Linked DNA regions of Homo sapiens. The protein of the gene in region 4 purifies or fractionates together with the protein of the main gene of each other region. This does not show direct contact. Each region holds a gene or a part of one and is shown on either strand. Other genes may lie near its edges.

Region 1 (4,175 bases), on a different chromosome or scaffold from region 4:
ACTCCAGCCTGGGTGACAGAGCAAGACACTGTATATTAAAAAAAAAAAAAAAAAAAAAAAGAGAGAGATACAGAAAATTCAATAAATAATAGGCATTCTACCTTTAATGCTTTAGTCAGAAATTCTTTGAGGTACATAAAAAGAAAGGACAACTTATAAATATCAAAGAAAATCAAATTCCTAGGCACTTGAGATCTCCAGAATTTTTTTTTGTAGAACTGTTTACCACTACAAGCCAAAGTCTTATATTAATAAGTCTATCATACATCATTCATTAAAAAAGTTTAAAGGAAATGCATGCTATTTCTAATTTTCTACTCCAAACAGAGCAAAAAAGTGTGAGCCACTTTATGGCTTATGCAACTTGACCTGACTTTGCCTATGCCTTCAATCTCCCCTTACAACTCTCACTCTCTCACTCATTATGCTTCAGTCACACTAGCTCATCTTCTGTTTCTTGAACATAACATACTTTTCCCCAATTCTAGGCCTTTACAGAGTTCTGTTTATCATTCTTCAAGTAAGCTCTCAATCTGTGTGTCTCAGATCAAAGGTCCTCCATTATCGAGGCTTCTTCTGATTGCCTTAGTAGTAACCCCTCCCCACCCAATCATTTGCTCCATAGCACTGTTTACTGTGATCAAGACTGTTCACAGCATGAAATTATCTACTTTACATGGTTATTATCTGTCTCCCGTATTAAAACAATAAAAACGGGGAGGGCACGGTGGCTCACGCCTGTAATCCCAGCACTTTGGGAGGCCGAGGTGGGTGGATCACCTGAGGTCAGGATTTCAAGACCAGCCTGACCAACATGGTGAAACCCCGTCTCTCCCAAAAACAGAAAAATTAACCAGGCATGGTGGTGGGTGCCTGTAATCTCAGCTACATGAGACGCTGAGGCAGGAGAATCGCTTGAACCCAGGAGACGGAGGTGACAGTGAGCCGAGATCATGCCATTGCACTCCAGCCTGAGCAACAAGAGTGAAACTGTCTCCAAAAAAAAAAAAAAAAAAAAAAGTGTCTCCTGTGCTTTATAATAATGACTGGAGATATTTGATCAATATTTTTTGTACAAATGAATAAATAAATGAATTTTAGAGATATTCTGTTACATGCTAAAGGTGTTTATAGGCCATGAACAGTGACTCACGCCTGTAATCACAGCATTTTGGAAGGCCAAGGTTGGAGGATAGCTTGAGCCCAGGAATTCGAGACCAGCCAGGGCAACATGGCAAGACCTATCTCTATTTTAAAGAATGGATGGATGAATGAATAAATAAATAAGTTTATATTTTAGGCCGTACAGAACTTTCTATAAGCTACTGATTTCCCAGAAAAAACTATCTCATGGCTATACACTAAAATCTCCAGCTTGTTTTTCTCAGGAGTGAGAAGAGGGATCAGGTAAGAAAGCCTAAGATGATTTAGCACAAAACACGTACTACTGATATGTGAGTTATTAGTGTCACCATACTCTAAGAGTGTTGATTTTGGAAGGGACCATAAAGCTCACTCTACTGAAAAGAGTGAGGTTCAGTACATTAAGATCATACAGCTACTATCTGACCTCAAAAGTCTTATTTCCTCTCAGCATGGAAAAACCTATACAACCCTAAGCTGAAAATTATATAACAACACAAGAAAAAAATACCAATTCTATGAAGAGTTAATCATGAGGAGTTTATCACTTCTCCATAGCAACGGTTATAAGGAAAGGATTCTAAGTAAATGGCTCCCTGGTAGTCATGTATGTTCAACATAAAGTGTCAATACTAATTTAGCATACAAGAGTCATTTGCTGCTCCTTATTTGGGCATTCCAAAGTTAATAACCCTTCAAATGAGCATCAATAAGATTCTAGTATCTCACAAGGCTGAGTGAAGGACATCTGAAGAGCAAGATTCCTCCATAGTAATTAATTATAAAACCCCCCATTTTTTTTTTTTTGAGACGAAGTCTTGCTCTTGTTGCCCAAGCTGGAGTGCAATGGCGTGATCTCAGCTCATAGCAACCTCCGCCTCCCGGGTTAAAACCATTCTCCTGCCTCAGCCTCCCTCCCAAGTTGCTGGGATTACAGGCGCATGACACCACGTCCAGCTAATTTTTGTATTTTTATTAGAGATGGGGTTTCACCATGTTGGCCAGGCTGGTCTCGATCTCCTGACCTCAGGCGATCCACCCGCCTCGGCCTCCCAAAGTGCTGGGATTACAGGCGTGAGCCACAGCACCTGGCCAAAACCCCAAATTTTTATAGTCTGAGAATTAAATGTGCTGAGGAAACTGAGTACCAGGAGGCAAATGGGCTGGGGAGCGTTTTCTGAAAAATACAATATACTCTTGAAAGTATCAGAAGCACAAATAAGCTTTGTCAACAAGATAAAGTAGTAACTCATCTGTGAAACAGATATTTTATTACAGAAAACTGGCAAAGAACTAGACTGACTAAAAGGATAAGCCTGTCAAAACATTCACTATGTGAGGTAGAAAGAAAACGCTAATCTAGCTTAGCTAGTGTGTGAAATCATACAAACAAGATAACATATAATTTATCATGGGGTCAGTTTAAAGTTGTTACGGTTTTTTAGGGGTAATACGTTGAAGGCATTCTTTTGGGTATAGTACGTGTGTAACATTTCGTTTCTTTAAGAGATAGGGTTTCATTATATTGCCCAGGCTAGTCTCAAACTCCTGGCCTCAAATGATCCTCCCACCTCAACCTTCCCAAAGTGCTGGGATTACAGGCATGAGCCAATGCACTTGGCCTGTATGTAGTATTTCTTACATAACTATTTCAGAGGGAAAAATACATACACCAAGCCCTTTATTTCAAGATTTATCACTTGGCTGGGTGTGGTGGCTCATGCCTGTAATCCCAGCACTTTAGGAGGCCGAGGTGGGTGGATCACCTGAGGTTGGGAGTTGGAGACTAGCCTGACCAACACGGAGAAACACTGTCTCTACCAAAAATACAAAATTAGTCAGGCGTGGTGGCACATGCCTGTAATCCCAGCTACTCAGGAGGCTGAGGCAGGAGAATCACTTGAACCCGGGAGGCAGAGGTTGCGGTGAGCTGAGATCGTGCCATTGCACCCCAGCCTGGGCAACAAGAGCAAAACTCCGTTTCAAAAAAAAAAAAAGATTTATCACTTTCATAATTAGGAAAAAAAAAGCATTTGGTTGTATCAAGATTTACACTAAAAAAAACTTTTTCATCCCCAATTTTGTATGACTAATAAGTCGTATACACAGTACTTACTTCACATGTAGAGAATTGCCTTAGACTTGTCCTAGAATATTACGTCTTAGAATCCTCACTGATTCTTCTCACCTCTTATACCTAACACCTAGTATTTTCCATTCTTACTCATTCACTATTAATATTTCAGTGAGAACTCCCTCGTTTCTGAAGAATACCAGACCTCTCGGAAGCAAATCAGAAATCTTAGTCCAAATTCATAAATCCAATAACCTGTTCAGTCTCTGGAATAACAAATTTTTTAAATCCTATTTTATATATTATGCAGTCCATTTCTATTTCTTCTAAAACAGGAAAATCAGTGATTGTCAAACAGGGCATCACTGCCACCTCTAACTCCTCTCTCCCAGTGCCTTTGTAAATGTGTGAGGTGTTTCTAGTTAAGACAATGGGGGTAGGATGGGGACGCTACTGGGATTTATAGGTAGTGCCACTTATGCTAAACATTGTACAATGCTGAAGATGGTCCTAAACAATCAAAGTGCTCCCCCAGTGCCAATGGCACATAATAGTTACTTGATTAATGTTGAATTACTCAATGCATTCCAAACTTCATGCATGAATCTATCCACTTCTAGAAAACAAACAAACAAAAAGATATAAACCTGAGAGTGGTCCCAGTTTGGGGTTTGTTTCTAGTGGCTGCATTACAGACAAAAGCAACGATCTGGCCGGGTGTAGTCGCTCATGCCTGTAATCCCATCACTTTGGGAGGTTGCAGTGAGCCAAGATCGTGCCACTGCATTTCAGCCTGGGTGACAGAGTGAGACTCCATCTCAAAAAAAAAAAAAAAGAAAAAAAGAAAATAGCATAGGCTGGGCACAGCGACTCACGCCTATAATCCCAGCACTTTGGGAAGCTGAGGAGGATGGATCATTTGAGGTCAGGAGTTTAAGACCAGCCTGGCCAACATGGT
Region 2 (4,175 bases), on a different chromosome or scaffold from region 4:
ACAATTCAGTTATATCCAAACACTCTAAGACCAAACAGAAGCAGGGATGACAATGAGACACTGAAGACACACGAAGGTGAATGCTGAAGACCATCAGAGTCCCAGCAGGAGGTCACGTCTTTCATTCAGACGCTCCAATGCTTTTCATTTCAGTTTGTTAAAGAACGTGTTTTACAGGAAGTTCTTTACAGTAATTTCATGCCAGACACCAGGTTTCTTCGATGGTACACAGCTCCATGAAATTTGTGTTTCCATCCAGTTGACAGGAATAAAAAGGAATTTTTATTTTTGTCTTTTTTTGGGCCGTAGAGACGTAAAATGGTCAGATTCCTTTAGGAATAAATGAGGAAAAGGAGAGGAAAGAGAAGATCTGGGCTGTGCTGGTGCTGGTTTCTACTCATCTTTCGGAGGGTGTGACTTCAAGAGTTAAATCACACTTAGGCCACTACAATGATTAGTACTAGTTATCTTTTTTTAAGATGATAAAAAGGAAAGTATCCAATGGACATAAAAATGGTCAAAGGTTTTTTTACTGCAGGTCAATTTTTCCCCCGACCAAAAAATATACAAAATGAACATATAATTGGGAGGGTAACTCTGCTGGACATTCCAATTCACTCATCTGCGTGTCCCCCACACGGGTAAGGGGAACAGGCGTTCGGTTTTATTAGTCATGTTACAGCAGTAACCAGATGTGTTAATGGCAGCTTATTTACGGTCCATCGATCCTTTGAACAAGTATAGGAAAGCATGGCTGTCAGTCTCTGACTGCTCACATCTGAGCACATTCAGCTACCATGGAAACTACAAGGGAAGGAAAAATATATTTATTCCAAGATTTACTGGGAGTTTTAAGTGCCCTTTCTTCCACAGAGCCCCAGAGTGGTGACAAGGTGCTAGGGGCTGCTGTGTTTTCCAGCATGAGCTCCCATCCTCTGAGGGTCCTGAGAAGGATAGTGGATTGGTCCTGGAGCCCGCATGAAAGGAGGGGGTGGTCCCATTGGGTGGAACATGTGTGGCCCAAAACCTGCAGATACGAGAGAACAAATGTGTTAGGCTGGTAGTTTCCTTGATAACCTTTCAAACCTCTCAATCTTGCTAAGGTTAAAACCACCTACACATAAATCAAGGTTGACACGGGGCTTAAGCAAATGTCAGTTCACAAACTTACTTCCACTTGTTATTTCCTTGGTTTTAGAAACCTTTCCCCCACAGTCCAAAAAACTCCACAGCACTCAAGGTATCGCCTAGTATGTCATCTGAGTCTCTGCTATGTATCCAACATGCCAAATCCTACCAGACAGGATTCAGTCAGGATTTGGGAGATAAGAAAGAAATCAGGCTGATGGCAAAGACTGTGTCATCATTAACCTCAATGCTTGACACCAGAATGGAGGGTGCTCAGAAACCAGATTCTCTTCAGAGTATGGGCTCTCTGCCACAGGAGAACTGGCTACCTGTGATTTCCTTCCACTGTTAACACTGTCTACAGCAGTGCTATACGAAGTGCCAGTCCTCCACCTATTTCTGGCCACTCAAGACAAAGAGCTTGAGTCAAAATGTAAATTATACGACCAGGCACAGTTTAGTTCATCTGACAGTTTTTTTGGTAACAAGACTTTCTCAATGAAGGAAGGGGTTCACTGATTACATTTTGGCACAAGCTCCTGATCTTGTGGCAGACAGGTGATAAACACTTTGTAAAATGACACCCGCTCACAGCCCACACTGGGCAATAGTGCTCTAGGGCATCCATTAGCATTTAGTTTAGAAAAGGGAACAAATTGGTGATAGATCTTTGTAATCTAATAATCTTACTCTGCTGACACATATACGCGGATCTTTAGAAAACTGGCCCCTTTCTTCTCCTCGGCAGAGCAGGAGAAAGAAAAATTTCAGAAATCCCAACAGATCAACTTTACTGGTAGACTTCTACAGAGCAAACTCACAGGATTTGGATGTGTTGAACATGATGGTGAGGTTTATGAGACAGAACTTTCACAAGGATTTCTCTGGGCTAAGAAGGAAGATGGAAGTTACCTGGGGGTGGGGGTGGAGCAATGCCAGGGGGCGGTGGCAGAGCAATGTTCACCACAGCTGGAGGACCACTTGGGGGCAAGTTGAAGTAGTTGGCAGAGGCTTCTTCTTCTGCTGCAGGAGGAGGAGGAAGAGCTGGAGGAGAGAAAATAGTCAACACATAGAGGGGAGAACAATTGTGCAACGCTGTTTCTACCACCTTTACATTCTCAGAGGTCCTACTGGGAGAGTAGAGCGGCAACATGAACCAGACCTGGGTCCCATCTTCCAAAATAGGAACATCAGGGCAGAAAGAGCTTCTGAAGTCAGCAGGGAGTCTGCACTCACCTCCTGGCAATCCTGGAACAGGTTCTAGTTTGATCCCAGAGTCTGTAGTTCCATCTTTCTCTTTTTCTTTTCCTCTGGCTGCCTGGGATCTGGGAAACACACATGCATACAGTCGGCACTCTGGCCCACCTTATCTCACACCTCTGCTTCTTACATTCCCCAGTCCAATGGAGTTCCTTCGCTCTACCTCCTCCTCAGCACACACTCTTTTCCCATAAATGCCACTGTGCACAGTGAACAAGAGCAAAGGTTTTGACACCAGAAAAGACCTGGGTTCAAAAGCTGCTAGAACTATCATAAGGACCAGAAAAGGCAACACATACGTGTTTAGCACAGTGCTTACCACATAGGGAGCGCTCCACAAAGGCAGATGCTGCTATTAGCCATCACTTCCCTGGTTCCAAGTTGGAGACATGTTCCCCCTTTGAACTGGGTCTTTCACCTGTGTCTCTCTTATGCAATCATCACTTTTAAACTTAAAATAGCGATTCTTCCCTGTTTTATCTTCTCCACTGGACAATCAGCCTCTAAGGGCAGAATCTAGGTCTAATTCATTTATAAACCCTAAAATTCACCTTTCATGGCCTGGCATTATACTTGGCCTATAATAGCTAGTCACAAAAACATGAACCTTCAAAGGAGTAGATTATACACCAACCCCCTGAATACATTTCCAAAGCAGGGTTCTCCCAACATCCACAGGAATCAAGTATCACATAGAGAGTGATCTTTGAAAGATCTCTTTAAAGATCCTGTTCATTTAAGCCTGTTAACCAAAAGCCTACTAGTCTCCAGAAAATGAAATAGTTTCTTAAAAATCTAAGCAAAATGTCACTTAAAAATAGTTTAATTCTCACCTTCCCCATTTCACATTCAGTCTGCGGCCATTTACAATCAACTTATTAAAGGACTTCTCAGCAGCCACTTCTGCAGCCTGCCGTGTGGCAAACTGGATGAAAGCACACTGCTGTCTCTGCACAACAGTGATCGTCCGGATCTCTCCGAACTGGTAGAAATGATTTCTGAAGGGAAACAGGCAGAGAAAAATGAAAGTGGGAGTTAAAAAAGATGTACCCAGGAGACTGAAAATGGATTAACTTTCACTGACACACCACTAGGCAGGTGGGCCCCAAGGTTATCTGCCTAACTACCCGCAGGTCTCCACCCCATATCTTGTCCTACTGTGGGTGCTGCTGATTGAGAGAAGGAAAGAAAAATAATGAGTAAATAAAGGTTCTCAAACATCTCAGGGTTTTTTCCCATGGAGGAAAGGGGGTTCTAATAGGTTCTTTAAAGACCCTAAACCCTAGATAAGAGGTTGGCAAACCATAGCTCTCAAGGCCCATGAGCCAAGAAAGTTTAAAACAAGAATACGTGACAGAGACTGCATGTGGCCCACAATGCCTAAAATATTCACCATCCAGCCTCTTACAGCGAAAGTCTGCCAACCCCTGGGGGTTGTCTAGCTCACTTAGATAGGGTTTAATGGAGACAGGCTACCAAGGGCAGGTTATAAACTTACAGGAGTTTCTTCTCCACTTTATCTCTTTGGAAGAGGTAATTTCCATTACTATCTGCCCAGAAGTCTCATCTAGCCAAGCATAATACAAGCCAAAAATAACACAAATTTATCAAATGCCAGTCTCTTTAAAAACCAACAATTTAAACCACAAGAGTTTTATCATCGCAAAGCTCTCCCTCCTCTACATAATTCATCATACTTGGATGCGTGCCATCCTTTAAAACTTGGCTGTTAGGTCAAATAGAATCCTATGTCATTATTACCATATGCCAGGATGGATAAGCACTCT
Region 3 (4,175 bases), on a different chromosome or scaffold from region 4:
TAGTTCAGTCACTCACAGTTCTTTACTGCAGTGTGCCTGAGAGTTACTGTGGAAAGCTGCAGACCCAGCACCATGGATACTGAGCTTTTGAGGCAATAGAGGCTTTACTTTTTTTTTTTTTTTTTTTTTTTTTGAGACGGAGTCTTGCTCTGTCGCCCAGGCTGGAGTGCAGTGGCGCAATCTCAGCTCACTGCAAGCTCTGCCTCCTGGGTTCACGCCATTCTCCTGCCTCAGCCTCCCGAGTAGCTGGGACTACAGGCACCCGCCACCACACCCGGCTAATTTTTTGTATTTTGTTTAGTAGAGACGGGGTTTCACCGTGTTAGCCAGGATGGTCTTGATCTCCTGACCTCGTGATCCGCCTGTCTCGGCCTCCCAAAGTGCTGGGATTACAGGCGTGAGCCACCGCACCCAGCCACGAGGCTTTTCAAGTAAATTGCCTGTATATGACTTTCCCCTTACACTCTTGATTTTAGAAATTGGCCCCAGTATAAAATGCTCCTCCAATGAACAAGACTCTACTGATGTACAGGACACTGCACATCAAATACCTAAAAGATAAAGCCTTACAAACAAAGAGGAAATCGTACATTGGACCTTCTGGGGAGAGAGAAGGCAGTTACAGCAACCAACTAGACCTGTCCCACCAGCTAATTGGCAATTAAAGTTTTGCACACGCACCTCTTCATCCATAAAATCTTCAGGACCAAGAACAGATTTGTCTGCTCTGTTCTGTCGTGAAGACACAAAGGTAGAGGGTGTCCATCCTGAAAAAAAAAGAGTTTAGAACTTTACAATCCTAGAGAGTATTTGGGTCTATGAGTAAATGATTAAATAACATGTATGGACTTGAAATTCCCAATAACTATAAACTCTTAGCTACTTCCCATCTCAGTGCTTATATAGACGTAATTATTCCACATAAATTTCTTATTAATCCCTGTATCCCCTGATGTAAAACTTAGTGGATACATTAAGGTTTCCCCATAAGAAAGTGAAACCAAGAGATATAGAATTACACATTGAAAGTTAAACTGTGAAATGAACACAAGCAGATCTGAGCTGACAGATGCAAGGTCACCTTAAAATGCAGGACGTGAGACCAGCAACCTCCACTGGCATATTAACATATCTAAAGAAATGATGTCATCGCTTCTAGGCCTTTTGGCTAAGATCAAGTGTAAAGATATGATGTCAAGGTGTTTTAATCAGTCAGAGTGGATAAAGAGAGAGTAACAGAAGGAATCCAGGCAACATTCACAGTACCCTGACCAAAGACTCAACCTGGCAGGTCCAAGGGCAGCGGCTCTGCCAGTCCCCCAGTTTCAACAGACACTGGAATCCTGTAACCAATGGCCTTGTTCCCTGACCACGGTTACCGAGCATGTGCCACGTCCACAAACAGGGAATGCTCTGGAGGTCACATATGTCTGTAACCTCTGCACATAAAGTTGTTTAGTTTTCTCTAAGAGGGTTGCACCTCCTTCCTGATTCTCTCCAAGGGCCCTGTGAGCTGAGGCATCTGGGGAAGGTCTACTCTCAGTAGGTGCACCACTGCACTAAAGCCTGGGCGACAGAGTGAGACCCTGTCTCAAAAAATAAATCAATTAATTAAATAAAATGGTAAGGCCGGGCATGGTGGCTCACGCCTGTAATCCCAGCACTTGGGGAAGCTGAGGCGGGTGGAACACTTGAGGTCAGGAGTTCGAGACCAGCCTGAACAACATGGTGAAACCCCATCTCTACTAAAATACAAAAATCAGCCGGGTGTGGTGGCGGGCACCTGTAGTCCTAGCTACTCGGGAGGCTGAGGCAGGAGAATTGCTTGAACCCAGGAGGCGGAGGTTGAAGTGAGCCGAGGTCATGCCATTGCACTCCAGCCTGGGCGACAGAGTGAGACTACATCTCAGGAAAAAAAAAAAAAAATTATAAAAGATCTAGCCCATCTTTTTCTTGATAATTGCTATGTGAATTAATCAGTTCATCTTCCGTGCTCACTATGGCAGCACATATAATAAAATCAGTTCATCTTCCATTCATAACTGAGATATAGAAAGCCATTTCTTCCAGTTCAAAAAAATGCTTCTAGATTAATATATCTTAAAACATACAATACTTTAAACAACTTGGCATTTATAAAAGTACATAACATAAAAGATTTAACTGACTTTTCCCCAGGTAGAGAGCACTGAGGAGCCAGTCTTGCTGTGGTCCCCAGTGTCTGAAGAGGGCACCTGGTGACTCTTCCCTCAGCACTAACGCCATGCTGGCTCCTTAACCTCTCTGACCCTTGGTGGCATCATCTGCAAGATCCCTGTGACACCTGCCCTCCTCACTCACTCAGTCACGAGAGACAGTCAATGATTAACTGAAAGACTCTGTTTAAGAGTATTTCGTGAATGGCAAGACACAATAAAAACCAAAGTCATTATTATCATTTAATCATCTGATTAGGAGGTATGCATTTTTTTACAAAGTGAAAGAAAACTCTTTAACCATAAGGTTGCAATCAATGAACAAGATACAAGTTGACTCTGGAAACATCCAAATATCCAAAGAACACAAGAGGTTACAGTGTATGTTCAGAGAAAGCTGAGCGCAGTGGCTCACACCTGTAATCCCAGCACTTTGGGAGGCCAAGACAGGCGGATCACTTGAGGCCAGGAGTTAGAGACCACACTGGCCAACATAGTGAAACCCTGTCTCTATAAACACAAAAAAAATTAGCTGGGCATGGTGGCAGGCGCCTGTAATTCCACCTACTTGGGAGGCTGAGGCAGGAGAATCGCTTGAACCCGGGAGGCGGAGGTTGCAGTGAGCCAAGATCACACCACTGCCCTCCAGCCTGGGCAACAGTGCAAGACTCCATCGCAAAAAAAAAAAAAAAAGCAAAGGTGGCCGGGTGCAGTGGCTCACACCTGCAATCCCAGCACTTTTGGAGGCCAAGGTGGGCAGATCACTCAAGGTCAAGACTTTGAGACCAGCCTGGCCAACATGGTGAAACTCCTGTCTCTACTAAAAGTATTTTTTTTTAAATTAGCCAGGCATAGTGGCATGCGCCTGTTATCCCAGCTAATTGGAAGGCTGAGGCAGGAGAATCGCTTAATCCAGGAGGCGGAGGTTGCAGTAAGCCAAGATCACACAACAGCACTCCAGCCTGGGCGACAGAGCGAGACTCTTGTCTCAAAATTAAAAAAAAAAAAAGCAAGGGTGAGGGAGAATCAATATTTTGATCATTTGCTTTAATGGTATAATAGCTACAATTAGGAAAATGATACCTTCTTTTGAGCCAACAGTATTGAAGTATCCAGCAGAGAAACCTCCACTAAAGGCCCCGTGGAATCGTTTATACCTTCCTTTTTCATCTCTGACAGTCTGATCCTGAAGAGGGATTGGTTTCTTTGGTCTTTCACCTAAAAAAAAAAAAAAAAAAAGTTTTTTAAATGAAAAAGAGAGGAGATGGTCGGTTCAAATTTAGGGAAAATGTCACTTTTTAAATATCATAAATTGTTTACTTCTTATAATTCAAATATAATCATTTAAATTGTTATTCCTAGACTTTACTGCTTTATATAGCCTAGAAAACAATATATTTTATAAGCTTATGTAATAATGATTGCCCTCTTTTCCCACTAAATTCCATTACAAAACCTGGTCAACATGGCAAAATCCCGGCTCTACTAACAAATACAAAAATTAACCGGGCGTGGTGGCAGACGTCTGTAATCCCAGCTACTTAGGAGGCTGAGGCAGGAGAATCGCTTGAACCCGAGAGGTGGAGGTTGCAGTGAGCCGAGATCACACCACTGCACTCCAGCATGGGAGACACAGCGAGACTTCTCCCCCAAAAAAAAAAAAAAAAATTATAATGTCAGGAGAGTTCCGACAGATGAAACTGAAATCTCCTGGCTTCAAATGAAGGGCGCAGAAGCTGGGGTGGCACTTGGCAAGGAGAGATACACTTCCATACCTCTTCTAGAACGTCACACCATCCCTGAATCCGGCATTTTTCCTTTGGTATTGCCTATTTTCCCCGACTCCTAAGAGTTTCCTTAATTTCTGTGAATCTCCTGATTCCACAGTGTTCTTTAAACCTATTCCTTTTCCTACTTTGTTGAAAGGGCTGGGTTGAGACATCACACAAGCAAGGGAATTTAATCTAATACATTTTAGGC
Region 4 (4,175 bases):
CCCCCAGTGCCATTGTGGTTTGTGAAATCACCGCCCTGGCACATGAACTGGGGGATGATGCGGTGGAAGCTGCTTCCCTTAAAGCCAAAGCCCTTTTCATGAGTGCACAGGCAGCGGAAATTCTCTGGAATTGAGAAAGGAAAAAGCGCTGGGGTTAAAAAATAGGACAAAATAAAAAACCTCGAAAAAACTTTGGTTTAGTGTTCATATTTTTGTTTTAAAATAAGAGATACTCATTATAAACCTTTGTGATACTAACCTTGTAAGGACTATAAGGGATTCTTTTTCCTTGAGACGGAGTTTCACTCTTGTTGCCCATGCTGCAGTGCAATGGCACAATCTCAGTTCACTGCAACTTCCACCTCTTGGGTTCAAGTCATTCCCCTGCCTCAGCCTCTTGAGTAGCTGGGACTACAGGCATGTACCATACACCTGGCTAATTTTGTATTTTTAGTAGAGATGGGGTTTCACTATGTTGGCCAAGCTGGTCTAGAACTCCTACCTCAGATGATCCGCCCACCTTGGCCTCCCAAAGTGCTGGGATTACAGGTGTAAACCACCACACCTGGCCAGGACTATAGGAGATTCTGTTGAAGGGGGATTGAATATACATGTTCGAGCTCTGTTCCCTTTTAAAACCACACTAAATTGGTAGGAAACTGATTTTTTAAAAGAAAAACCAAAGGATCTTAGAAGAAAACATAGGGGCAAATCTTCATGACTCTGGATTTGGTGATGGTTTCTTAAATGTCACACCAAAAGCAGAGGTGAAAGAAAAAAATAATTAGATTTTATCAAAATTTAAGACGTGCATCAAAGAACCGTACCAATAGAGGGCAAAGCAACCCACAGAACAGGAGAATGCTTATTTGCAAATCATATTTAACATGGGTTTAATATCCAGAATATATAATGAACTCCTATAATTCAACAACAAAATGGCCAGGCACGGTGTAATCCCAGTGCTTTGGGAGGTCAAGGCAGGAGGATCACTGGAGGTCAAGGGTTCAAAGCTACAGTAAGCCATGTTCTCACCACTGCACTCCAGCCTGGGAGTCAGAGCAAGACCCTGTCTCTTAAAAAAAACAAAACAAACAATCCAGTTAATAAATAAGCCAAAGATTTGAAAAGATGTTTCTCCAAAGAAGATATACAAATGGTCAACAAGCACATGAAAAGATGTTCAACATCATTAGTCAGTAGGGAATAAAAATAAAAACCACAATGAGATGCCATGTCACACCTGTTAAGAGAAGATGTGGGCCAGGCATGGTGGCTCACGCCTGTAATCCCAGCACTATGGGAGGCCGAGGCAGGCGAATCATGAGGTCAGGAGTTTGAGACCAGCCTGGCCAACCAACATGGTGAAACCTCGTCTCTACTAAAAATACAAAAAATTGGCTGGGCATGGTGGCAGACGCCTGTAATCCCAGCTACTCGGGAGGCTGAGGCACAAGAATCACTTGAACCTGGGAGGCGGAGGTTGCAGTGAGCCAATATCACGCCACTGTACTCCAGCCCGGGCAACAGTGCGAGACTCTGTCTCAAAAAAAAAAAAAAAAAAAAAAAAAGAGAAGATGTGGAAAAACTGAAACACTCATACATTGCTGGTAGAAATGTAAAATGGTCCAGCCACTGTGGAAAATAGTTTGGCATTTCCTCAAAAAGTTAAATACAGAGTTACCATATGACTAAGCATTTCCATTCCTAGGCATATATATCCAAAAGAATTGAAAACAGGAATTTAAACATATACTTACATGTGGATATTCACACAGGCATTTACAATAGTCAAAAGGTGAAAACAATGTGCAAGTGCCCATCAACAAATGAATGAACAAGATATTTATCCAAATACAACGGAATATTATTCAGCCACAAAAAGGAATGAGGCACTGATACATGGTACAAGGATGAACCTTGAAAGCATTATGCTATGCAAAATCAACAAGGCGTGGAAAAGGACAGCTATTGTATGATTCCACTTACATGAAAAATCTAGGATAGGCCAATTCATAGACACAAAGATTAGAGGTTATCAGAAGCTAAGGGGAGGAGAAAATGGGGAGTTATTATTTAATAGGTACCTTTAATAAGTGGTTTTGTTTAGGATGATTCAAAAATTTCGAACAGAGTAATTACTGCTAACAAACACTTTAAAGTGGCTAAAATAGCCAAAAAATAAACTTAAAAAGCAGGGAGGAAGAGACAACAGCAACAAAATTTCTGAAGTTAGAAAACAAAATAGATGAGTCCTAAATGATATAGCAGACCCGAGAAAGCTGAATCTTAAGCTGGTAAAAGCCAAGAAGCAACTCAATTTGCACTCCAAAAGCTCAGAGGAAAGGGTGCAGGTAATCCTGGAGACAGTAAGTTTGGCTGAAAGCCCATTTAAGAAAGTGGTTAATCTTTGGGATCCTTTCCCTGACTCTGCAGCTGGGGGCCACCCCTCCCCAACCTGGTAGCCAGCTGGGGGTCTAGTCTTTGGTAGGTTAAAGCAGAGGGTCTCTGGACTAGGACATCCTACGCATAGTGAGGGCTGAGGTACCATAATGACAAATGGAGATTATGTGAAAGTTTATATACTGAATGTTGAGGAATTCAGCCTTGCCCTCATCTCCCCTTAACAAGATGCAGACACCTGGATGCAAAACCCCCAGCAGGATGGTCTGGGAGAAAATCAGGAATGATTACACAGAAAACTATGCAAAAACAAGGCAATTATCAATTCCAGGCAAAACAAAATGCTGTGCATGAAAGGAGGTTATCACATGATGCTTACATTGTTAAAATAACTTAGGACCTAACCAAAATTATGGTACCTATACAGGGAAGATGAGGGGGCAGGGAAGGGGATTTTAAAAAACTAATTCTTTGTTCTCTGAAGTAGAAAATCAGAAGATAATGTTTAAAATGGAAAACAGGAAGTAGAAATATAAAACTGTTATCAACATGGAAATAAAAACCAAAACACCTAAGAGTTGAAATCCGCTCCTCTGAGGAGCAGCAAATGGTGTTGGCAGCAGGGCACAGGGACAGCACCAGGGGACGACTGTTTTTTCAAAACAAGCTTTGTGAAACTGAATTGACTCTTTATATGTCTAGATAATAAAATTTAGATTAAAAAGAGAATAGAAGTCAATATTTAATAAATTACAAAGAATACTCAATAAAAGCACTAGTTACTTCTAGAATTGAGGACTGGATGTAGAGAGGGGAAAATGAATTTTCAATTTATTGTCTTAAATATTATTGGAATATATGTATATGCTATTCTTTAAAAAAAAGAATACATTATTTACTTGTATTTTTAAAAAACGATTAAAAAACAGTAAGCCAGCACTTATAAAGCTTCAAAAACACCTGCTCTGACTTATCTGTTACTAGATCCCAGGATCTGAGATGCCTCAAATCAACTTAGGTCAGAAGCAATATCAAGGACACAAGAAGTGAAGCAGTAAGAACCTGGGAAAGGCTCACTGCTCAGCCACCAGCGTCCCGCCGTTCTGACCACAGCGTCCTGCTCACCTGCTGTCATGGGCACGACATCAGAACGCAGGAGCATCTGGATGCGGCCAGCCGGCTTGTTCCCAATCTTGATGTCCATGTACACCTGAGGATTTGAGCGGGCCTTTTTAGCAATGGGCTCTCCCTAGGTGCAGAAGAAATTGCTAGTTAGAGAGAGCTCCCTGACGCCCTAAGTAGGAGTGCGAGTATTCTACACACCCACCCAGAACACAACTCCAGTGCGTAGGCTGGAGCAAGTGCTGACGGGGAAGGCCTTGGGCCCTGATAGGGCTGCAGGAGGCAGGAGCCATGGCCGTAGCACCCAGCTGGATGCCCAGCGACAGGAGGTCTCAGCACTGGCTAACCTGAGCCTCACACACGGGGGTGTTATCTCATCATGCTTGCCCTCAGATGCATCTGCTTCCTCCTCTTGCTTCACAGTCACAGAACAGCACTTTTCTGGTCCATGATCCACAACTCTCAGTATCTTCAAATGCCAGTTCCAGCCCACCCACTGTCCTCTAGTTAGGCAGACCCATCCATGTACCACCTCGTCCCTCTGTGCCTGGCCCTGCATATACACTGGCTAACTACATGGAAGCAAGGGGGCAGCCCTCTTGCTCAGGCCTAAGTGCTCAGAAGACAGTGGAAGATGTTGGGCCTTGCAT
Region 5 (4,132 bases), on a different chromosome or scaffold from region 4:
GTCTTGAACTCCTGAGCTCAAGCAATCCTCCTGCCTCAGCCTTCCAAAGTGCTAGGATTACAGGTGTGAGCCACCACATCCAGCCTATTCCACAAAAATTTACTGAGTACTTGCTGCGTGCCAAGAGCAGGGGTGAGCAAAACAGATACATTCTAGCAGGGGAGAGATACAGTAAACAATCATTATCCACACATGTATGTGGTTACAAACTGATGGGCATTATGAAAGAAAAGTACAAGGTATTTCTGTGAGGACATAAGAGGAAAATCTTATTCCAATTGCAGGCTCATGGTAAAAAGCTGCCCAAGGTGTCGACTGTAAGGGGCTAGCAAAAGCATCAAAGAAGGCCGGGTGTGGCGGCTCACGCTTATAATCCCAGTGCTTTGGGAGGCTGAGGTGGGTGGCTGGATCACCTGAGGTCAGGAGTTTGAGACCAGCCTGGCCAACATGGTGAAAACTATCTCTACTAAAAATACAAAAAATTAGCCAGACATGGTGGTGCACACCTATAACCCTGGCTACTTGGGAGGCTGAGGCAGGAGAATCGCTTGAACCCGGGAGGCAGAGGTTGCAGTGAGCCGCAATCACGCCATTGCACTCCAGCCTGGCTGACAGAGAGAAAAAAAAAAAAAAAAAAAGGCTGGGAGCGGTGGCTCACACCTATAATCCCAGCACTTTGGGAGGCTGAGGCAGGTGGATCATGAGGTCAGGAGATCGAGACCATTCTGGCTAATACGGTGAAACCTGTCTCTACTAAAAATACAAAAAAATTAGCTGGGCATGGTGGCGGGCGCCTGTAGTCCCAGCTACTTGGGAGGCTGAGGCAGCAGAATGGCATGAACCCAGGAGGTGGAGCTTGCAGTAAGCCGAGATCACAGGCACTGCACTCCAGGTTGGGCGACAGAGTGAGACTCCATCTCAAAAAAAAAAGCATCACAGAAAACTTCCACTTTCCCAGCTCTTCAATATTCCACCTTTTGGCATTTAGGGTGGATTTAACAAAAGGGACCACCATTGAGGCAGGGTAGCCACCTTAGGGAACACGAATGCTTTGGTTTAACTTGTCAACTGGGAAACCAAATTCATAAACTGACAAGTAGCCCAGAGGCCCAAGCTAAGTTTGACTGCAGATTGGGATGCTACAAGGGATCCAGCGAAGCCTTCTCTCTTGGTCAAAGAGTAGACAGTGGAGTTGGGGAACAATTTCTTTTGGGAAGAAACACAAAGATTATGACTTAAGGAACACAGGAGAGGAAATGAAAAGAGGATTAAGATGAGTAACAATGGAAATCCTCCTACAAAAGTTCATACAAGCTTCATGCTTTCAAAAGGGCTTTAAGATGGTGTGTGGTGGCTCACACCTGTAATCCAACACTTTTGAGAGGCTGAGGTGGGAGGATCACTTGAGCCCAGGAGTTGGAGACCAGCCTGGGCAATATAGTGAGACATTGTCTCTACAAAAAATTTAAAAATTAGCCAGACATAGTGGTGTGTGCTTGTAGTTCCAGCTACTCAGGAGGCTGAGGTGGAAGGACTGCTTGAGCCCAGGAGGCGGAGGTCGCAGTGAGCTGAGATTGTGCCACTGCACTCTGGCCTAGGAGACAGAGTGAGACCCTGTCTCAAAACAAACAAATAGGGCTAAAAAAAAAAGTTCACACGAGCCACCCAAAGTGCAAAGGCGAAGCTTCTGGCACTGTTCCAACAGTAGCTGCCTTTGGCCCCAGCAAACCTGGGACAGGAAGAACTTGAAGTCAATAGCCCTGCGGAGGGAGAGCCACTTTATCCCCTCTTGCACAGAGCCTTGCAACTACTTCCAAGGAGGATCACTCCTTCCAGCTCCTTGGGGGCAGCCCCTGGATAGACACCAAGGCATACTCCTGGGGCTCTGGTTGGCAGTACCTGGCCACAGAGATCCAAAGGCGGCCCACGGTGCATATCTGGGAGTCTTCCTCATCCTCCAGGGTGTAGTTCTCCCCCAGTACCTTCACAGGCTGCCCAGCATGAATGGTGCCACTCAGCACCCGGCCAAAGGCGTGAAACTGGACTCCATCATCTGTGCTGTACATCTTAGTAGTGTGGCACATCAGGGGGCCCTGGAAGAGGGGACAGGGTGCAGCTTCAACCACATCTATGCTCCGGGGAAGTACTACTCCCCGCCATCTTCCTTGACAGCAAGGACATGAGCTCTATGAGGAGCTAGAGAAAGATGAGGTAGTCTCATCTCCAAACCATGTTCTACCCCATCCCTCTGAGAAGGATGAATAGGAGACATGGCAGAGCAAAAATATTCTCCTCTTTTTTTTTTTTTGGGAGGATAAGGGCATTGAGGAAGAGACACAGATTTAAGATAGCAGAGAGGCACTATTGGCAAGATTACTTACTGTCCCAAATTTCCTCTTAAGATGTAACTCAATTCTCAACTGGCTGTGTATTTATGATAAGAAACTAGACAGCCTAAGAAATGGCTGGGAAAGATGTTTTTAAAAGCCAGGACTGACAAGATTAGCTACCATTTGTTGAATCTTTAGTATCTGCCAGGCAACATGCTGAACACAACCGTAACACTTCCTTAATCTTATTTAAATCTCATAACAACCGCTCACATTTTATTATGCTCGTGTTATAGACCAAGGCCTTGAGGCTCAGGAAATGTGAGTAATGTTCCCAAGGTCATAGCACTAGCGGTGGCAACATCAGGCTTTGCATTCAGGCCTGACTGTGCTCATGGGGATGGGGAGGCAAGGGTGGGAAAGTGGGCATTACTCCTGTGACCAGAAATCAGTATCCCCACACAGGAAGGGGAAAAAAAGACCAGAGAACCGGGGAGCCACATGCCCTTACATCAGGGTCACAGTCACTCATAGCCTCGCCGAGGTCGGAGTCCACACCACCGGTGTAGGTGTGCTCAATCTTGGGCTTGGCGCCCACCTTTGGAGAAGGGATATGCTGCACACACATGTCCACAAAGCCTGTGGATGGAGAAGAGAAAGCCATTAATACATGCCTTCCCAGGGAGCACGAGCAGGAGTTACTGAGCCATTCACAATGGTCAAAAAGCTCAAAGTGCGGGGACTGATTGTTAGCTCTAAAAGCTCTGGCACTATAGATAGTGATAGCCTGCTTCCTGGGAATGTGCTGCTAGAAGATTTGGAGTCACCCTGATGCCAGAAAAGAGCAAGCAGCAGGTATCAGTGGTACATGGTTCCTTGGAACTCAGCTGACAAAAAGTTTAAAGTACATCGATCTATGAACTTTTATTGGCTATACGCATTTACGTGGAACAAAATAAGCACCCCATCTAACATCTACTTAAAACAATTCCCAACCTGACTCCCCTTGAGAAACACTGCATGCATCTCTATTCAATAAGTTACCCCGTTTTCTGAACACATTAATAAACCACATAAGAGGGAACCCCCATGAGCACACTGGGATAGGCCTGTGTGCCTTCAATGGTATCTGGTGTGTCAGATTGATGGGCAGACCAAAATAAGCTATTAAAACTACGCACCTTGGGGGCCCAGACACCTAATTCCCACCGGACTTAGAATCAGAGACTGCTGAGAAGACCCTCAGCCATCACCCTTTCCACTTCCCTGATTTTACAGATAACAAATCAGAGTCATGAAGAATTAGGTGGCTGGCCCAGGGTCATCTCATGGAATGGCCAGGGCAGGATCGAGACAGACTCAGGTGGTTTTTTCAACCAGTCCAGTGTCTTTCTGCTGTATCACGTGCCTTCTGTGTAACTAACCAAGTCTCCCAAGTCCTAGCCTAGTGCTTTTTGCACTATTTCACACTACCCAAGCATCCACCTTCCCGGCTGCCCCCTGGAAAATATACCAGAACCACAGAGCCTGCCTCCCCATCTCATTTACTTGAACACTCCTCCTGGCAGGAAAATGTAATTCCTTTTGGTTCCCAAGATAGAATGTGTGCCATCATCCACTAAGGAAAGCAGCTAGGAAAAACACCAGTGTTCTGCATCTGAATCTGTGGTTTGTTGAAAAGATCCTCAGATTTCTGACCTCCATCGCTGGGTGAGAAAAAATTGCTGTGATACCTGTGGCAGGGCACGAGGATGACAGAGTTAAGGGGCCACGAGCACATTATTACCTGTGAACTCGCCAAA
Region 6 (4,175 bases), on a different chromosome or scaffold from region 4:
TGTGAATTACATCTCGATATAGCAGTTATTTAAAAAGGGGAGAGTGCTGCGCATGGTGGCCATACCTGTAATTCCATTACTTTGGGAGGGTGAGATGGGTGGATTGCTTTAGCCCAGGAGTTCGAGACCAGCCTGGCAACATAGAGTGACCTCTTCTCGCTTGAGCCCAGAAGGTCGGGGCTGCAGTGAGTCAGGATTGCACCACTGCACTCCCACTTGGATGACAGAGCAAGACCCTACCTAAAAAAAAATAATTCCAGTGTCAAGCAGTCAGGTCTTCACTTCTCTCAACTAACCTTTTTTCTGACATCACAGGTGTGTAGCACCACTTGTTACAGTCTCTTTCCCATTCCCTGCTGCCCCTTCTATATTCTTTTCTTCACATTAATTTGTTTCTTTGAGTACTTTTGATCACGGGTCGCTGAATTGAGATGCTGCATGTGCAGTGCCCGCATGCCATTTTATTTTTTTCCTGGTACATCTTGAGGTAGCTTGAGGACAATACTAAGTTGCCTGTTTTCCTTTCCAGCGGAAGGCAGACAGATTGCTGCCAACATGAGGGGTATTGGGATGATGCCCAATGATATTCCTGAGTGGAAGAAGCATGCCTTTGGGGGCAACAAAGCCTCTTACGGAAAAAAGACCCAGATGTCAATCCTTGAGCAGAGGGAGAGCCTGCCCATCTACAAACTGAAGGAGCAATTGGTCCAGGTGAGAAGACTTTTATGATGTATTGGTGGGGAGTAGGGTTATTGTCTAAAAGAGGGGTGATATTTTTAAACTGAAACTAACGGGACAAGTATGTGCCTACTTGAAGTGGCTCATCCAAAAGAGTTAAGAAAGAAGGATAAAACTTTCTAAATACTTTTTTTTTAAATGGGGCTGGGCGCGGTAGTGGATGCCTATAATCCCAGCACATCAGAGGCCAAGGCAGGAGGATCACTTGAGCCTAGGAGTTTGAAACCAGCCTGAGGCAACATAGGGAATCTTGTCTCTACAAAAAATAAAAAATTTGGTGGGGCGTGGTGGCCCACACCTGTAATCCGGCACTTTGGGAGGCAAAGGTGGGCGGATCACAAGTTCAGGAGTTCGAGACCATCCTGGCCAACACGGTGAAACCTTGTCTCTACTAAAAATACAAAAAATTAGCTGGGCGTGGTGGCGCATGCCTATAATCCCAGCTACTCTGGAGTCTGAGGCAGGAGAATCGCTTGAATCAGGGAGTCGGAGGTTGCAGTGAGTCAAGATCACGCCGCTGCACTCCAGCCTGGCTACAGAGAGAGACTCTGTCTAAAAAAAAAAAAATTACCTGGGTGTGGTGGTCCATGCCTGTAATCCCAGCTACTCGGGAGGCTGAGATAAGAGGATTGCTTGAGCCTGAGAGGTCGCGGCTACAGTGAACTGCAATCACACCACTGCACTCCAGCCTGGGCGACCAAGTGAGACCCCATATCACAAATGTTTGTGTGTGCGTGTACAGACACACATACTTATGTATGTGTCTGTATATCTTCTTTTTCCTGGGGCCCCTAGAACAGTTTCCAAGTGGGCAGAGTATTGTGTTGCATGGACCAACAGCTCTGTTCAGTAATTAAAAATGAGGATACTCAGTCAATAAACTCATATGGGCAACTCATAGAGTGCTTCGGTACTCTATATTCTGGAGTTCTGATTTTAAGACCACCGAGTCTTCCTTGAGGTAATCAGGTTTACTAGTTTCTAGTGAATCCTTTCAACAATATCTTATATGTATACAAGCAAGTACAAATATATGCACACACACGCACACACATTTTATATGAGTACTGTGTGTGTTTACAGGTGGCAGTGATATTATATACACTGTTCTACATCTTTTTCCACTTAATGATATATCTCAGAGATTTGTGTGTGTGTGTGTGTATGTGTGTGTGACAGAGTCTCGCTTTGTGCAGGCTGGAGTACAGTGGCTTGATCTCAGCTCACTGCAACCTCTACCTCCTGGGCTCAAGTGATCTTCCCACCTCAGACTCCCAAGTAGATGGGACTACAAGGCATACACCATCATGCTCAGCTAGTTTTTTGTATTTTTTGTAGAGATGCGGTCTCACTATATTGTCCAGGCTGGTCTTGAACTCCTGGACTCAAGCAATCCTCCCTCCTTGGCCTCCCAAAGTGCTAGGATTACAGGCATGAGCCACTGTGCCTGGCCTTCTTAAACAAACAAACAAAAAAAATTGCCAGGCCAGGCACAGTGGCTCACACCTGTAATCCCAATACTTTGGGAGGCCAAGGCGGGCGGATCACCTGAGGTCAGGAGTTCGAGACCAGCCTGGCCAACATGGTGAAACCCTGTCTCTACTAAAAGTACAAAAATTAGCCGGGCGTGCTGGCGGGCACTTGCAGTCCCAGCTACTTGGGAGGCTGAGGCAGGAGAATCACTTGAATCCGGAAGGTGGAGGTTGCAATGAGCTGAGATCATGCCACTGCACTCCAGCATGGGCGACAGAGTGAGACTTCATCTCAAAAAAAAAAAAAAAGCCTTTTTTTATGGGCTGTATTATTTGGATAGGCTCTGGTTTATTTAACTAGTCCTATATCCATAGAAACATCGTTGATTGTAATCCTTGGCTGTTACAAACAACGTAGAAATAAGAAATAACTTTTGGGGAAAGATATAGAAATTTGGGAGTTACAGTGGGAAGGAACATTTTTTATGTATCTTTTAAATTCATTGTTGACTTCTTTAACTATATGTGTATATTCCTCTTTTCTTTGGTGTTAGAATATAGTAATTATTTTATTCCAGAGTAATGTAGATTTTAATGACCATATTTATATTCTGTTTAATGACCATATTTATATTCTGGCAGATTTTAATGACCATATTTATATTCTGTTGCTTTCAGGCCGTCCATGACAATCAGATCCTGATTGTCATTGGTGAGACAGGATCTGGAAAGACAACACAGATCACCCAGTACCTGGCGGAGGCAGGCTACACTTCCAGGGGCAAGATTGGGTGTACCCAGCCCAGAAGAGTGGCAGCTATGTCGGTGGCCAAAAGAGTGTCAGAGGAGTTTGGTTGTTGCTTAGGCCAAGAGGTAAGTAGATAGTGGAGTCGCTCGAAAAATACCAGAAGCAAAGGCCCAGGTCTCTTAATCTATCAAATGGAAATATTAATAATACTGCCTTTTTTCAGGTTTCTCCTGAGGGAGAGAGGGTTCCCATTGTCATAATCAGTCTGTTCAGAGTATAGTCTAAGACATACCTTACTATGAGGAAATTACTGTACATCTTGATCAGATTCTTAAGATTATGAGTGAGAGTGACTGGGCTGAAATCTTGCCTGGTGATTGGGAAAAGGAGACATTTGTATCCTAGGTTTTCCCCTTCTCTTCTGCTTTAGGTGGGCTACACCATTCGATTTGAGGACTGCACTAGCCCTGAAACAGTCATCAAGTACATGACAGATGGGATGTTGCTTAGAGAGTGCTTGATTGACCCTGACCTCACTCAGTACGCGATCATCATGTTGGACGAGGCACATGAGAGGACAATTCACACTGATGTGCTCTTTGGATTGTTGAAAAAGGTAACTAGATGCTCTTTAATGACCCCTCTACCTGTTGGAAGCTGAATTCTGGCAGTTGGATTTGAGTACCTGTGTCTTTGGGTAGTCCTTTTCAGTAAGCCACATAATATTTCTCTTCAGACAGTTCAGAAACGGCAGGACATGAAGCTGATTGTCACCTCAGCCACCTTGGATGCAGTGAAGTTTTCTCAATACTTCTATGAAGCTCCCATTTTCACCATCCCAGGTCGAACATATCCAGTGGAAATACTGTACACAAAGGAACCTGAGACAGATTATCTGGATGCCAGCCTGATTACTGTTATGCAGATTCATTTAACAGAACCACCAGGTAAGGGGAAAAAGCAATTTTCCTTTTTGGGAGGCCTAATTTTCCCTCTTAGGCCAAAAGTCCTCATATGGGTATCTTTTTTGCTAATCTTTTTAAAAACAACTTCTAAATATTCATCTCTCTGCAAGCCTCAGGCTTGTATGTTTGAAATGATGGTGGTTATAATGTCATATATAAACAAACTTGTATTGTTTACTTACTGGTCAGAATATGAATGCATATGTTCTGTTATTTGAAGTTTTATTAATATCACCATAGCCCTTGTATAGG
Region 7 (4,175 bases), on a different chromosome or scaffold from region 4:
GCTGGGGTGCAGTGACGTGATCTCAGCTCATTGCAACCTCTGCCCCTACCAGGCTGAAGCAATTCTCCCTGCTCAGTCTCCCAAGTAGCTGGAACTATAAGTGCACGACACCATTCCAGGTTAATTTTTTGTATTTTTTGTGGAGATGGGGATTTGTCATATTGCCCAGGCTGGTCTCAAACTCCTGGACTCAAGTGATCTTCCTGCCTCCACCTCCCAAAATGCTGGGATTATAACAAGCTTGTCCAACCCGCAGACCAAGGCCCAGGACCACTTCAAATGCAGCCCAACACAAATTCGTAAACTTTCCTAAAACATTATGAGATATTTTTTGTGATTTTTTTTTTAAAGCTCATCAGCTATCATTAGTGTTACTGCATATTATGTGTGGCCCAAGACAATTCTTCTTCCATTGTGGCCCAGGGAAGCCAGAAGATTGGACACCCCTGGATAACAGGCATGAGCCACTGTGCCTGGCCGGTAGCCACATTTCAAGGGCTTGAAAGTCACAGGTGGCCCATGGCTACAGTACTAGACAGTGCAGATTAAAGAACACTATCACTGCACAAAGTTCTAGTGAGCAACACTGCTGCTCTAATCTCTAGAGCCAGGTGACAACCAGGAATTGCTGGTTGCCTGGAACCTGCAACTTGACAGCCAGACCTCAGCCCCAAGGGCTGGTCAGCCAGACAGCCAGTCTCCCTGTCTCAGAGCAGCAAGAGACAGCCCAATTCAGGGCAATCGCTCAGGAAAGCTTGGCATGTTTATGCCAAGTTAATCATCACCTTTAGAGAGCCTCCATTTGGCTGCTGAAGAAGAAAGAGGTCAAAGGAGGACAGAGTGGCCTCACACTGCCCTGCCGGACAGCACTGTAAAGAGATGCCAGAGTTTCATCCACACAGCCTTGAACTGTTCACCTACTCACCCAGCCAGGAACTTCTGGATGAGCATCAGGAAATGAGGTTCAAATACAATACAGAAAAGTGTGCCCAGGCTGGCTACCATCCCTGCTGGAAACCCTGGCTCTTGCAAAACTTGGCTACCAGAGTACCCCAGTCCAGCACTTTCAGACTGTACCCCTGCCCCTGTATCACTGCCAAGTGCTTGCTGTCAAACTCCCTGGAGCATCTCCACTCTCACCTCTATGCACCTGAATGTTCCCACCTCTAAAATGCTCCCTGGGAACACTCTCCTTTCCAGCTACCTCGATGACCTTCTCCCACTTCCCCATCCTCCGTGGCTCAGCTCAAGTTCCATGCTGCCTTCCCATGAAGCTTCCTCAGGCTCTGCCTGGCTTTCCCAGAAAATGAACCCCAGCAGTACTGTCTTTCTGCGTGTCAACGGGAACTGGCTGACCTACAAGATGCTGCTTCAGGCAGTGCTGTGTCCTCTACAGAATCCCCTTCCCCCAGGGGGTCTTGCATGGGCTGGAATCCTGGAATCCAGGAGACATTACTTCCCCTCCTCAGCCTTGGACATCCCAGCTCTCCTCAGCCTCTTGCCTTGCTCCTCTCACTAATAAGTGGCATCAGGTGGGCTGACCAGGACGTCTTTGTAAAACTACAGCTGCATGACTACAAGAGAGTTTTGCGCAGAATAATACACGGAAACATTGCAACCCCTAATCTTGTCTCTTTCCATCTGCCACAACCTCAGGACCCTGAATTGTCTTAATATCACTAAATTATGAGTTTATAGTCTGGTGAGAGTTAGGAAGAAAGATAAAACTGTGAGGAAAACCAACTCCATGCCTGAAATTCCTAAGGCCTCCAGCAAAACCATGCCCACAGTAAGAACTCAATGAAGGACCTGCCACTGAGTGCTAGGAAACCAGCAAGATGCCATCCTCATGGGGCAGACAGGTGCTCTCCAAGTGCAGGCAGAGAAGGTGCTCAATCCTGGTGTCTGTTGTCACATCAGAAACCTGAACTAAAAATGTGAAGCCGCTTCCTCTCTGAAGGAGGAGACTCAAGGGGTTTTATCTGGCCACAGCAGGCAGTCATACTTCCTCACCAGACTCCCCACTTAAAAGGTCCAGCAGAAAGGGCCACAGGCTGGAAAATCAACTCAAAGGTTAGACCCTTACCTGTCCTGTCCCCAGGCATTCACCTTAATAAAAAAAATCACTCAAGAACTATAGGGATTAAATATGACACTAAAAATACATGCAACAAAATCAAAAACAGATAAATTGAACTTCATCAAATTTTAAACTCTTTGCGCAGCAAATGAGACTATCCACCAGGTGCGGTGGTTCACACCTGTAATCCCAACACTTTGGGAGGCCAAAGCAGGAGGACTGCCTGAGGCCAGGTGTTTGAGATCAGCTTGGGAAACACAGTGAGACCCCCATCTCTACAAAAAATTAATTTTTAAAAAAATGACACTACTAAGAGAATGAAAAGATAATCCAGAGAATGGGAAAAAATATCACTAATCTCATCTCTAATAATGATTTAATATCCAGAATATATGAACAATTCAATGACAACTCAATAACAAGAAAAAGAGCCCAATTAAAAATATGGGCAAAAGGAATCTGGATACTTCTTCAAAGAAAATATATATACAAGTGGCAAACAAGCATATGAAAGGATGTTCAACATCACTCATCACTGGGGAAATGCAAATCAAAACCACAATGGGATACCACCACTTCACACCCATTAGGAAGGTTATAATTAAAAAAACGAAAAAAGAAGATGGCTGGGCTTGGTGGCTCACACTTGTAATCCTAGCATTTTTGGAGGCCAAGGCAGGAGGATCACTTGAACCCAGGAGTTCAAGACCGGCCTGGGGCAACACAGTGAGACTCCTGACTCCTTTAAAAAAAAAAAAAGAAAGAAAGAAAATAAAATAATAAGTGCTGGGGAGGATGTGGAGAAACTGGAAGCCTTGCACACTGCTGCTGGGAATGTAAATGGTGCAGCCACTACTGAAAACACTATGGTGTTTCCTCAAAAAGCTAAACAGAATTATCATATGATCCAGCTGTTTTCCCTACACATAATTACATTCCTCTCCCTGCTATATAAACCCCTGATTTTAGTTCGTCGAAAAGACAGATTTGAGACTGATCTCCCTTCTCCTCACCTGACATCACCCGAATTTAAAAAAAAAAAAAAGGCCCAGTGTGGTGGCTCACGCCTGTAATCCCAGCACTTTGGGAGGCCGAGGTGGGTGGATCACCTGAGGTCAGGAGTTTGAGACCAGCCTGACCAACATGGTGACACCCTGTCTCTACTAAAATAAAAAATTAGCTGGGCGTGGTGGCATACACCTGTAATCCCAGCTACTGGGGAGGCTAAGGCAGGAGAATCGCTTGAACCCAGGAGGTGGAAGTTGCAGTGAGCTGAGATCGTGCCATCGCACTCCAGCCTGGGCAACAAGAGCGAAGCTCCATCTCAAAAAAAAAAAAAAAAAATTAATCCCAGCTACTCGAGAGGCTGAGACAGGAAAATTGCTTGAACCCAGGAGGCGGAGGCTGCAGTGAGCTGAGATTGCACCATTGCATTCCAGCCTGGGCAACAAGAGCGAAACTCCATCTCAAAAAAAAAAAAACAAGAATTACCATATGATCCAGTAATTCCACTTCTGGCTATCTACCCAAAAGAATTTAAAGCAGATACTCAAACAGGTATCTGTACTCCCATGTTTCTTCTTTTCTTTTTTTTTTTTTTTTTTGAGATGGAGTCTCACTCTGTCGCCCAGGCTGGAGTGCAGTGGCGCATCTCAGCTCACTGCAAGCTCCGCCTCCCAGGTTCACGTCATTCTCCTGCCTCAGCCTCCCAAGTAGCTGGGACTACAGGCGCCCACCACCGCGCTCGGCTAATTTTTTGTATTTTTAATAGAGACAGGTTTTCACTGTGTTAGCCAGAATGGTCTCGATCTCCTGACTTCGTGATCTGCCCACCTCGGCTTCCCAAAGTGCTGGGATTACAGGCGTGAGCCACCGCACCAGGCCTTGTACTCCCATGTTTATAGCAGCGTTATTCACAACAGGCAAAACGTAGAAGCAACCCAACTAAACAAAACATGGTATACACAACGGAATATTATTCAGCCTTTAAAAAAGGACTGAGATTCTGACATATGCTACAACATGGATGAAGTGTGAAGACATGCTAAGTAAAATAAGCCAGTCACAGAAGGACAAATACTGTATGATTTGATTA

Evidence for each region.
Region 1: the proteins of PPIE (region 4) and SNW1 purify together in Homo sapiens (affinity purification with mass spectrometry; 4 studies listed by BioGRID and IntAct, with this or other methods). This does not show direct contact.
Region 2: the proteins of PPIE (region 4) and RBM22 purify together in Homo sapiens (affinity purification with mass spectrometry; 4 studies listed by BioGRID and IntAct, with this or other methods). This does not show direct contact.
Region 3: the proteins of PPIE (region 4) and GPATCH1 purify together in Homo sapiens (affinity purification with mass spectrometry; 3 studies listed by BioGRID and IntAct, with this or other methods). This does not show direct contact.
Region 5: the proteins of PPIE (region 4) and EFTUD2 purify together in Homo sapiens (affinity purification with mass spectrometry; 3 studies listed by BioGRID and IntAct, with this or other methods). This does not show direct contact.
Region 6: the proteins of PPIE (region 4) and DHX8 purify together in Homo sapiens (affinity purification with mass spectrometry; 4 studies listed by BioGRID and IntAct, with this or other methods). This does not show direct contact.
Region 7: the proteins of PPIE (region 4) and CCDC12 purify together in Homo sapiens (affinity purification with mass spectrometry; 3 studies listed by BioGRID and IntAct, with this or other methods). This does not show direct contact.

Annotation. Positions count from the first base shown.
Region 1 is NC_000014.9:77,740,099-77,744,273, forward strand, and holds part of SNW1 (SNW domain-containing protein 1), read right to left. Parts: intron 1-4,175. UniProt on the Homo sapiens protein: Involved in pre-mRNA splicing as component of the spliceosome. As a component of the minor spliceosome, involved in the splicing of U12-type introns in pre-mRNAs.
Region 2 is NC_000005.10:150,690,855-150,695,029, forward strand, and holds part of RBM22 (pre-mRNA-splicing factor RBM22), read right to left. Parts: intron 3,387-4,175; coding exon 3,222-3,386; intron 2,454-3,221; coding exon 2,365-2,453; intron 2,173-2,364; coding exon 2,041-2,172; intron 1,028-2,040; coding exon 897-1,027; 3' UTR 1-896. UniProt on the Homo sapiens protein: Required for pre-mRNA splicing as component of the activated spliceosome. Involved in the first step of pre-mRNA splicing.
Region 3 is NC_000019.10:33,087,372-33,091,546, reverse strand, and holds part of GPATCH1 (G patch domain-containing protein 1), read right to left. Parts: intron 3,414-4,175; coding exon 3,279-3,413; intron 768-3,278; coding exon 682-767; intron 1-681.
Region 4 is NC_000001.11:39,744,852-39,749,026, reverse strand, and holds part of PPIE (peptidyl-prolyl cis-trans isomerase E), read right to left. Parts: intron 3,653-4,175; coding exon 3,529-3,652; intron 125-3,528; coding exon 1-124. UniProt on the Homo sapiens protein: Involved in pre-mRNA splicing as component of the spliceosome. Combines RNA-binding and PPIase activities.
Region 5 is NC_000017.11:44,860,814-44,864,945, forward strand, and holds part of EFTUD2 (116 kDa U5 small nuclear ribonucleoprotein component), read right to left. Parts: coding exon 4,117-4,132; intron 2,970-4,116; coding exon 2,842-2,969; intron 2,094-2,841; coding exon 1,900-2,093; intron 1-1,899. UniProt on the Homo sapiens protein: Required for pre-mRNA splicing as component of the spliceosome, including pre-catalytic, catalytic and post-catalytic spliceosomal complexes. Component of the U5 snRNP and the U4/U6-U5 tri-snRNP complex, a building block of the spliceosome.
Region 6 is NC_000017.11:43,504,115-43,508,289, forward strand, and holds part of DHX8 (ATP-dependent RNA helicase DHX8), read left to right. Parts: intron 1-529; coding exon 530-711; intron 712-2,888; coding exon 2,889-3,083; intron 3,084-3,388; coding exon 3,389-3,574; intron 3,575-3,694; coding exon 3,695-3,905; intron 3,906-4,175.
Region 7 is NC_000003.12:46,969,948-46,974,122, forward strand, and holds part of CCDC12 (coiled-coil domain-containing protein 12), read right to left. Parts: intron 1-4,175.